Linked DNA regions of Homo sapiens: region 2 is linked to region 1. Evidence: fine-mapped expression QTL. A gene starts in region 1. The other region holds a variant in brackets. All regions are shown on one strand. Distances are between the middles of the regions. Region 1 holds the start of ZNF189 (zinc finger protein 189). Region 2 holds the start of ALDOB (aldolase, fructose-bisphosphate B).

Region 1 (5,386 bases):
TCATTGCAGCATGTGTGTATACATGTAAATGTATACATGTATACACACACATACACAATATTTAAGGCTGAATAAAATGCCATAAGTGTGTCTATATGTATATGTGTACCTATGTATGAATATATGTATATATTATGTGCTTGCATATATACACACACAAAAAATGGCATTTTATTCAGCCTTAAAAAAGGATATTTGTAACACATGGATGAACCTGGAAAATATTATGCTAAGAGAAATAAGCCAGACAGAGTAATACCACATGATCTCACTTATATGTAGTATCTAAAAAGTCAAATTAGGCCGGGTTTAGTGGCTCACGCCTGTAATCCCAGCACTTTGGGAGGCTGAGGTAGGTGGATCATGAGGTCAAGAGATCGAGACCATTCTGGCCAACATGGAGAAACCCTGTCTCTACTAAAAATAAAAAAATTAGCCGGGCGTGGTGGCGGGCACCTGTAGTCCCAGCTACTCGGGAGGCTGAGGCAGGAGAATCGCTTGAACCTGGGAGGCGGAGGTTGCAGTGAGCCAAGATAGCGCCACTGCACTCCAGCCTGGAGACAGAGTGAGACTCCATCTCCAACACAAACAAAAAAAAAGTCAAATTCATAGAAACAGAGAGTAGGATGGTGGCTACCAGGGGTGGCGGAAATGAAGAGACGTTGGACAAAGGTAAAATTTAAATTATGTAGAATGAATAAGTTCCAGAGATCTAATGTACACCATGGTGACGATCATTAATAATACTGTACTGTATACTTGAAATCTTCTGAGAGTAAATCTTAAGTGTTTTCACCACACACACAAAAATTCTAACTGGCCAGGTGTGGTGGCTCACCCCTGGAATCCCAGCAATTTGGGAGGCCAAGGTGGGAAAATTACTTGAGTCCAGGAGTTCAAGACCAGCCTGTGCAACATAGTGAGAACTCCTTTCTCTAAAACAAAACAAAACAGAAAGTATGTGAAGAGATGAATATGATAATTATCTTGACTAATAATCAACATCAAGTTGTATATCTTAAATATATAAAATTTTTAAAATAGTAAAGAAAATATAATCATCATTCTCAGTAATCTATTTCCTCTAGTTTTCTTCATAATTTACCACTTTCTGAAATTACATTACACATTTGTTCATTTCTTCCTCCATTAGAACATATGCCCTACGAGAACAAAAATTTGGTCTGTTTTAGTAACCACTGTATTCTTACAACACCTAAGATATAGCCTGGCATATAGTAAACAGCCTAAAAAATATTTGTTGAGTGAATGAATAAAACAAACTTGGAAGAGATTTGAGAGATAATAACAAATATTGACCAAAGAAGAGGGAAAGCTAATATCTGAACTGATGAAAAAGATCTTTCCTAATTGTAGTGGTTTTTGTTTTAAACCTAAGAGAGCATACATTGCTCCCTAGGGTTCCTACCATACGTTTTGATTTCCTAAACACTATCTAAGTCAAATTAGATTTACCTTCAAACAATTACACATGGTGCAGCCGTGCAGCAGAAAAAGCAGTAGATGGGGAGTTAGGAGACATATGTTCTAGATCCAGCTTTGCAATTAACTTGCTTTGTGACTTTGGGAAAATCACTTCCCTCCTGTGGGCCTGTTTCCTCATATGTTGGAGTACCTCGAGGATGAGAATGGATTTTGTTTTTCCTGCTGTATCCTAGGCGCTTAGAGTAATGCTGGCCCTAAGAAATCTGTTGAATGACTGAATGAATGAACAAACAAAAGGAGGAGGCAGTACTTCATTACTGAACCTTGCTTGTGAAGAAACACAGCCGGCAAATGAGTTTAGTTTACCAAGCGCTTTCATGTGTTTGCAGACAACACACTCGGTGTCTCGCACACGAGGTTAATCCTGCTTGCTTAATAAATAAATGAATGAGTGAAGTGAAAAGGAAAGGGGGTGGTATTTCCGTTATAAAATGAGAAAACTAAGGCCGAGAGTGGAAGAGACTGGGTCCCACCACTCAATGAGTGCTTCTCAACTCGGGACCCTAACCGGACCTCCTTGTCCTTGCTCTGATCAGGCGCGGGACCACGATGGCGTAACACTCTATTTTGAATTCGTCCCTAATCCTCCTTAACTTTCCTTGAACATGACCCACCGTCCACCATAAAGCTTTACCTGAATCGAGACCAAAATTCTCTACATGGTGTCCCTGAGACTGTCCACATGAAGACTCTTCTGGTAATGCCCGACACAGATCGCGCCGCCATCTTCGATGAGATCCACGGGCCTGAGCGCAGCCTTCAGCCAGCAGTGACGCGCCCAGACCAGCCAATCGGATACAATCCCAGTGGCAAGAGCTTTCTTTTTCCTGTAGGCTCCCTCGCCCTTTGCACGCTGGGAAATGTAGTCCAGTAGCTGTTGCTGGCGGCGTCTGGACCGCGGCGCTCTTTCCGAGCATGACGGGAGTTGTAGTTGAGGGGGCCTCGGGAAGAATCTGGGTGACGCCTTCTGGTCCGGGGGCGGGCGGTCATAGCGTTACTTGGCTGCAAGGAGGAGGAACTGGCAGCGGGGAGGAGGCTCTAGCGAGGCCTGAAAGGCTGCGTAACCAGGCAGGAGTAGGGGTTGGGGTTCGGGGTTGGGGGACAGCCAGGGATCGCGTCTGATATGCTGTTGGGGTCGTGACCGTCTGGGGGCCGAGGCAGGCACTGGCCAGACCCAGCCAGGGATCCTCGTATTCGTCGAGCCTAATTTCCAGCAGCCGGGTAGGCCTCACCAGAGGCTCCTTTCCGTGAGGCCGCCCCCAATTCCTGCCCCTATTCTCTGCCTGGGAGATGGCTTCCCCGAGCCCCCCGCCGGAGTCGAAGGTAAGTAAGCACCCCCCCGGGGATCCCGGTTGTCTCGCCGCTACCCCAGCTAGGCCGCACCACTGCTTTCTCCCCCAGGCCCCCCACCAACCTCCTGACCGCCTCTTTAGGGCCAGCGCCTTGCAAGGAACTCCCCACTAGTGCATTGGGGTGCGGTTCGCGAACAAACTGCCCACTGGCTCCCTTTTTTTTTTTCTTTTTCTAGAGAGACTTGATAAATCGGCCTGAGAAAATAAGTAATGCTCCAGACTAGCTCTCTCATTTGTGAGTTCTCCAGGTGAAGCACCATTTTTGACCTTCCCTTGTGTCTTCTGTTCCTGGCACAGTGCCTGGACCCCAAGGTACACGCTTAGAGAACCTCAAGGAATTGAATTGAATAGAGTCACAAGCCAGTGCAAATGGAAAATTGAAGTAGGCAATGAGGTGAGGGAAGCTTGGAGAGGCCTTGGGGCAGTTTACTAAAATTAAACTCTCAGGGCATAATAAATCAGAAAAGCCTTATCCGTAGGTCCTTTCTAGTCTGAGATGTCTGTCAGTTACAGTTCGTTCCCAGAATTGGGCAACATATGGAACTTTCAGTTATCATGTTCCTCCTAGCCTACTTGGCCACAATAAGTGATTGCCTCTGTCACTTTTAGTGGTAGAATTGTCCTTGAGACAACAGGAACTGACTACAGAAATCATACTATTTCAGGGGTTGCTGACATTTGAGGATGTGGCTGTGTTTTTTACCCAGGAGGAGTGGGATTATCTGGACCCAGCTCAGAGAAGCCTGTATAAAGATGTCATGATGGAGAATTATGGAAACCTGGTCTCACTGGGTAAGAATCTGCTGTTTCTCTAATTAAAATATCTAAGAAGGTAGAGAGAAATCAGACTAACAGAACATTTGGACGGAAACCAGTACCAAAACTGCTTTGTTCCAAAGTTCTGATTCAAACCTTTTAGCCATTAATTGTTTCCATAACTCTCATCCCTAGCTTCCTTGAGGTGACCAAACTGCAAGCCTTTCGGGCATCCTGTCTTCATAATCTCATTCCCATATTGTTCTGTACTTTCCGTCCTGGCTCATCCTCCCACAGCTTTCCTCCCACCCCTTTTCACTCTGCGTTCTGGAACCCCTGTTCGTCTTCACATAATGTTCCTTCCCTCCTGGCCTTAACTGAAACCTGGCACTATCCCAAGGACAACGTTTCTCTGGCAGTTTTTCAAGTGGGGGCTGCTTATTCTCCCACATCCTCCTCCTTCCCCATCCTTTGTCTCAATGTTGGAAGGGGGAAGTTATTGTTCACTCAGCTTTTAAATGCTGTCCCCAAAGCATTAGTTTTCCACCTTCAAACAAAATCTCTCCTTCTTTGAGGTCTCAGCAGTCTTGCTTTTTCCACTCAATTCCTTTTCACTATCTGTCAACTTTTAGTTTGGTCCTTCACACATAACTTTGTCACATGTTTCATAGTCTATTTTAACTCGTGCCATGGATGACCCAGTTAATACTTCAGCCTCAGTGGATCTTCAGGGACCCTGCTTTCCACTTTTACTCAGCACCTTACATCATTGATCATACCAGTTTTGTCATAACAGGCAAATCGTAAATCCCAATACCCTATTCTCTGACCAGTTATTCGGAAATGGAAGTTTATTGACTGTGACTAGACGAGGGTAACCAAAACAGACAGGCTTTCTCCCCTTGTGGAGCTTACTACAACTTCTCTATCTTTCCTACTCCTTTCCACCTAAACCCATTCATTATTAACGATGTTTCCTGTCCCTTGACGTCTCTGTTTTTTCACTGAGGTGTCCAACCTTTCTGGGCTTGTATCCCCATCTAATCACCAGCAAGCTCTCTTGCTAGCTTGTCATTATTCTCTACCCATTCTGCAAACTTCAAATCCTGTATTTGTTATAAAATTCACCTTTCTCTCTTTCCTACCCAAATTGCTAAACATAGCAGGAGAAATTCTCTAACCAGAAAGATTGATATCCTTTATATAAGTATGGCCTTTTTCTTCCACTCTCCACTGGGTTTTTATATCTTAGCAATATTTTTTGTCACTGATATGCTCACTGCCCTGTTCTTTTTAGTGACTATTCCAAAAGCTTATCCATCATTAAGTAGTGAAGCTCACCTTCTGTTTCTCAGAGAAAATAAAGGCCAATAAGCATGAACTCTCAACTTCTCTGCCTCTTATCTACACACTTAAAGCTGCTCTCATCTTCTCACCTTTCCAGAAACTAATCAGTCATTCTTTTTTCCCTTTTAGTTTCAGTCACTATTTCTTCTCCCTTGGTACCCTTATTCTGATGATTGGTATGTTCATAACTCTTCAACAGGAGAAAAGAGAGGAAAAAAGAAAAAATCCCTCCTATGAGTCAGACTCTCCCTCTTGCTGCTGCCTATGATTTACTACTTGTTCTCTTCATAGTCAAGATTTTGTAAGAGTAGTTAATGTGTGTTCTGTATTTCTTTACCTCCCCTTGTGTCTGAGCCCCTTTGTCTTGCCTCTAATACTCCCTTTAAATTGTTTAACAGTGATCTGTAACACGTCATTGTCAAATG
Region 2 (5,386 bases), 39 kb after region 1:
AATGTTCTAGAAAGTGTCAAACATGAAGGGTTTGGAAATTCATAATCAAATGATGACTATGCTCTGTGAAGTTTCCAACCCTGTTGCATTTCCTCATTTGAGCAGTGGGTGAAGGCGAAGGGCAAAATACTCCAAGGGTTTGTTTCTGTGACAAAGAAACTTCAGTGTCGGTACCAGTAGGTGTGGGAAGAGAATGTAGAAAATGACATAAGGCAGTAGATATGTAAATAAATCACTAAAATAAGTAGTTGTTATGAAAAGAGAGTTGAGAGTTGAAATGAACAGGAATCTCAAAAACTGATTAGAACCTAACGATAGGAGTGTTCAAGTTGTTTTTCCTAGATCAGAGACTCACAAGGGCCTCATTCAGGTAACACAAGTAACTGGCAATCAATCTTGGGCATTTTGCCACCTCTCAAAAAGTCAGGAAAGGTGTGAATGAGCATTTATACTTAGAGAGAGGAAAACAAGCATTTCCCTCCAAGCAGAGCCATCATGTTTTCAGCCACCATCAAGTTTTTCCCGAAAACAAAGGCAAACCAATCTTCCCTTCTATAAGCTTAGTAGTATTATTAACCCCTTATTCACTGGTGCTGTCCAGGTATACAAAGGAAGCTTTTTTACTTACAGTTTGGGAGAGAAGAGTCCTCCTAGATATCAAAAGCTGTGGGTGAGGCAGCAGCTGCCAAATAAGACAGATCTTTGGTAGCACACAATTTTTATAGACTTCTCATCATGTTTTTTTTTTCCAATATTTGCCCTCCCCTTTCTACCTTGACCTAGTAGGGAGGTGTTTATTCAACACCTCTGATTGGCTCATAAACAACCAGTCCTTAAAATCATGCCCATATACTCCTTATGCTCATAGAATGTTAAAGCTGCAAGGAATGTCTTTAGACCGTGGAGTTCCTAATCCAGACCCTCCATTTCACAGATGAGGAAACTAAGGCAAGGAAGATAAGGAGGTTCCCTTAAGTCATACAGCTAGTCAATGATGGAGCTCTAGGGTCCATTAAATGATACTAGGAAGAATGTTAGTGTAGCTGTAACACTTACAAAACACATGAACTTGGTGACGGGTTTTTGGTTTTGTTTTTTACTTGTCTGAGCCGTTATTTTCTTCTCTGTAAAGTGGGATCTCAATTTCACAGGAGCATTAAGTGAGTTGTATAGTGTCTGTACGCAGTAGGCATTCAAGAATTATTATTTCCAAATTAGGTAATCAATGCTATATTTTCATTATTTATCTTCAGTATATCATTAGTAGTCAATTCCAACAATTTATTCTATAATTTATAGTTAAATTTAAATAATCTTTCAATAAAAGAAATTGATTCTGAATCCTTGAATTTCCCATGTGTGAATTTTGTCCAAATTGGAAATAAAATTCAAAACATTCTGTTTTTAAAAATCATTGTCTCTCCCATCTTCTCCAGTCCTCCAAAACCTAGCTGGGCTTTCTGATGTATTTAATGCCAGAAATCATTGTTTTGTATTCCCATTCTCTTTTAACCTTTGTACTTTTGTCTTCAAATTTGGTTAAAAACTAGAATTAAAGTGATTGAACTAAGCCATCAACACCCCTAAATATGGTACTGTCTGGGTATGGGTTCATTCTGCAGGGCTTTTTCCTAAGTATGAAACCCAAATTTAATTCCAGAAAAGGTAAATAAAAATATTATATGCTTCCAGAGGCAAATGATGAATGAGGCAAATAAATGAGGGAAATCTAAAAGTGATGGAATGACCGTAATTACAAAAAAGGGTAAATTCTCATGAACATGTTCCTCTGGAATAATTCATAAAATGGAAAACAAAACTAAGATGCTTGATTGTGCAGAGTGTAACACCAGAATTTATGGATGAAAAGGTGAAATGTCAACAAAATGAAGGAAAAAATAAACGGAACTAGGTGATCTAAAAAGAGTTTTGGTTTAGTTTTGGTTGTTTTTCCTAGATCAGAGACTCACAAGGGCCTCATTCAGGTAACACAAGTAACTGGCAATCAATCTTGGGCATTTTGCCACCTCTCAAAAAGCCAGGAAAGGTGTGAATGAGCATTTATACTTAGAGAGAGGAAAACAAGCATTTCCCTCCAAGCAGAGCCATCATGTTTTCAGCCACCATCAAGTTTTTCCTGAAAACAAAGGCTTCTGAGAACAGTAAGTATTCATCACTGAATGTGAATATTGAAGGAAATTGAAGTATTTGAAACACAATATTGAGGCTCATTTGGCTAGGGAAGTTCCCACCAAGCCCTGTCCTGAGGATAGTAGAGGGATAGACCAGGGAAAGGTCCTATCAGCTCCCTTGACTCCACTTAGTATCTGATGGCACATTTCCTGGTTTCCCCATCTTCAACTGGGCTCATTGAAGCACCTGCTACCATATTTGTCAGACCAATGTGACCAGCTTTGGGGCTATGTGAGGTTTCATCCTCTATGATTTTTGGTAAAGGAGAATGGAGGAACAAGAGGTGGATGGTGATGAAAGAATAGAGAGTGGGTGTAATGAAAGTTGTTAGGAGTCAGGGCTGGGGTAGTCAGAACCATAGCTAAAACATTCTACCTGCTGAGAGATGCTACTAGTACTAATTATTCTTGTTATACAACAATAATAGCTATCCTTTTTTTGAGAGTCTATGATGTACCTGGTTCTTTTCATAAATTATCTCCAATATCAGCGACTCTCTGAAGAAACGCTTATTACCCCCATTTTATGCATAACAAAACTCTGGTTCAGAGAGGGCAAGTAACTTGTCTAGAGTCACAGTACAGGTAGCTGGAGAGTTTGTCTCATTCCAAGACAGTGATCTAAAGCAGAGCTGCTTACATTTTGGTAACTGCAGACTCATAAATTAGCTCTTTCCCTATTGCCTTCTCAGCAGTTTATAACCTTGGACATTAAACTTTCATTAATCAGGGAGGAATGACTTGCGTCAGCAGACGTAGGTGTCCTTGGTGAGCTGGGCATGGCTCCATGTGAACAACAGCCTGGCTAGGAATGTCAGAACAGCATGAGTACTCCTGCCCTGAGTGCTGCCACTTGCTGCTGTTCTTGTAGCATCAGCATTTGCCCACCTCTGGGGCTTGATGTGCAACTGAAACTCAAAGTTCAGGAAAACAAAGCTAAGGGCTTACTGGACCTTAGAGAAACAGCAACTCTTGACCAACATACACTGCTTGCAGGGTTTTTGTTTTTATTTTTATTTTTGTTAAGTCTCCTAACACAATACAATGTTCAAA[A/G]TTGAGTATTATATGTGGAAACAGCATTGGACTTGGAGGCTGTGAAACACTGGGAAGTTCTTCAACCTTAGTCCACAGTTTCCCCATCTGTAAAATGAACTAGGAATGCCTCTATCAGAAATGTATTATGAAGCATGAATGAAATAATATATGAGTGGCACTTTGTACAGAATAGGTTTTCATTAAATAGCTAGATCTGAATGCATAACTGGTTTAGAGGCCTTTGATTGTAGGATCTTAAAATAGGCAATGTAACAACAATACTATTCATGATCGTTACAGTCAATACTTCTAACAACAGCCTCGCTTATTCTCTACTCCCTGCCCAACTCTAGATATTTCTTCTGGTTTGAATGTGATATCTATATAAGTCAATCCACAGGCCATGAGATAAATGTGTTATTAATGCATAACATGAGGTCTGAGTCATAAGCAAACTTCTACATGCAAATAAATCTCACATATTATAGAGTTACACTTACTGTAGAATTAGCAATATTATAGAGAAAGAACTTTCATAAAAAGAGACCACATTACACAATGCAACTGGAAGAATCACGATTGGCATTTTAAAATATATTTTCCAAACTGTGGTACAGATATTTCCTTATCATATTGCAATCTGCTTTGGTGGTTGGAATAGTTTCAGGACCCCAAAATCAGTAGTTATTACTTTGGTCTAGAGATAGAGCTATGTTTTCTCAGCATGGCTCTCAAAAGTGTTTTGCTGTTATGTGTATAAGGCATTTTGTTAGCTATGGAGACTTTTTAGAGGATACGAGGTGAGTAAGACTGGCCTATTCTCAAGAAACCTGCATTCTAAAAGGAAGAGAAGATTGAAGTTGAGAATCAAATAAAATCAAACCAAATACAAGAATGTACATAAAAACACCAAGAGATTGTTGTTGTTGTTGCTGCTGTTGTCACTGCAGCATTTATGGATGACTGTGTGAAGTAACATTAAAGAAAAGTCCTATGAAAAGCCCAAATATTCGAGATTTTTTACAAGGCCAAGTCAATTGATTCAATCTGTCAGACTGTAAGACCTAGGGGGGTAGGGGGTAGTAATGTCTTACCAATGTTTCCTCATTATCCAGCACTATGCCTAGACACCAATCAACTTTTGTGGAATAAATGAATCAATAGATATATGAGTATCAATATAGGTGTATATTAGTATCAATCTCAGAAAAGTCTAGAGTAACTGGCTTATAATTCTCATCCCAGAGAACTTTGAAATAAATAATAAGTAGAGTATGAACATTCCTTTCTTCTAAAACTATACTAGGTTCTGAAAACTCTTCTATCATTGCTCATTTGGAATTTCACAGGAATCCAGGCTGTAGTGCCTTGCAATGGTACACAAGAACCACAGCCTCCCTACTTTCAGTAAATTCTGGTACAACACACATAACACAAAATTTACCATCTTAGCCATTTTTAAGTGTTCAGATTAGTAGCATTAAGTGTATTCACATTGTTGGGCAACCAATCTTCAGAACTCTTTTCATCTTGCAAAATTAAAACTCTATACCATTAAACAACAACTCTCCATTCATCCTCCCCACCACCCCCTAGCAACCACCATTCTGCTTTCTGTCTCTATCAATTTGACTACACTATGTACCTCACGTAAGTGAAATCATAGAGTTGTTGTCTTTTTGTGTCTGGCTTATTTCACTTGGTACAATGTCCTCAAGTTTCATCCACATTGTAGTGTGTGTCAGAATTTCCTTCCTTTTTAAAGCTGAATAATATTCCATTGTATGCTGCATTTTGTTTATCCATTCGTCTGTTGATAGACACTCGGGTTGCTTCTACCTTTTGGCTATTGTGAATAATGCTGCTATGAACATGGGTGTACAAATATCTTTATTTAGACTCTGCTTTCAATTCTTTTACGGTTTTATTGAGATAGAATTCACATAGATACAATTCACCCACTTAAAATGTACACTCCAATGGTTTTTTTAGTCTGTTCATAGAATCAGAGTATTAGATGTCAGTTTGTGAGAGAGATGTGGTAGGTTTTTAAGATGCTCCAAATCTGACGGTATAAATAGTTTTAAAGCACCACCATGAAGTCCAGGAGCAACAGCCACTGGGGTGCAGCAGATATGAGAATGAAAGAGTCATGGGTC

The links.
Region 2: its variant is fine-mapped to the expression of ZNF189 in tibial nerve (GTEx, PIP 0.98).

What each region holds. Positions count from the first base shown.
Region 1 is chr9:101,396,361-101,401,746 of GRCh38, forward strand. It overlaps ZNF189 (zinc finger protein 189), which reads left to right and starts at 2,491. Exons shown (of 3, transcript NM_003452.4): 1 at 2,491-2,829; 2 at 3,524-3,650. The coding sequence starts at 2,797. It overlaps MRPL50 (mitochondrial ribosomal protein L50), which reads right to left and starts at 2,258. Exons shown (of 2, transcript NM_019051.3): 1 at 2,141-2,258. The coding sequence starts at 2,232. RefSeq lists enhancers at 1,371-1,900, 1,901-2,429, 1,962-2,491.
Region 2 is chr9:101,435,081-101,440,466 of GRCh38, forward strand. It overlaps ALDOB (aldolase, fructose-bisphosphate B), which reads right to left and starts at 694. Exons shown (of 9, transcript NM_000035.4): 1 at 629-694. The variant A/G (reference allele first, on the strand shown) is at 3,246.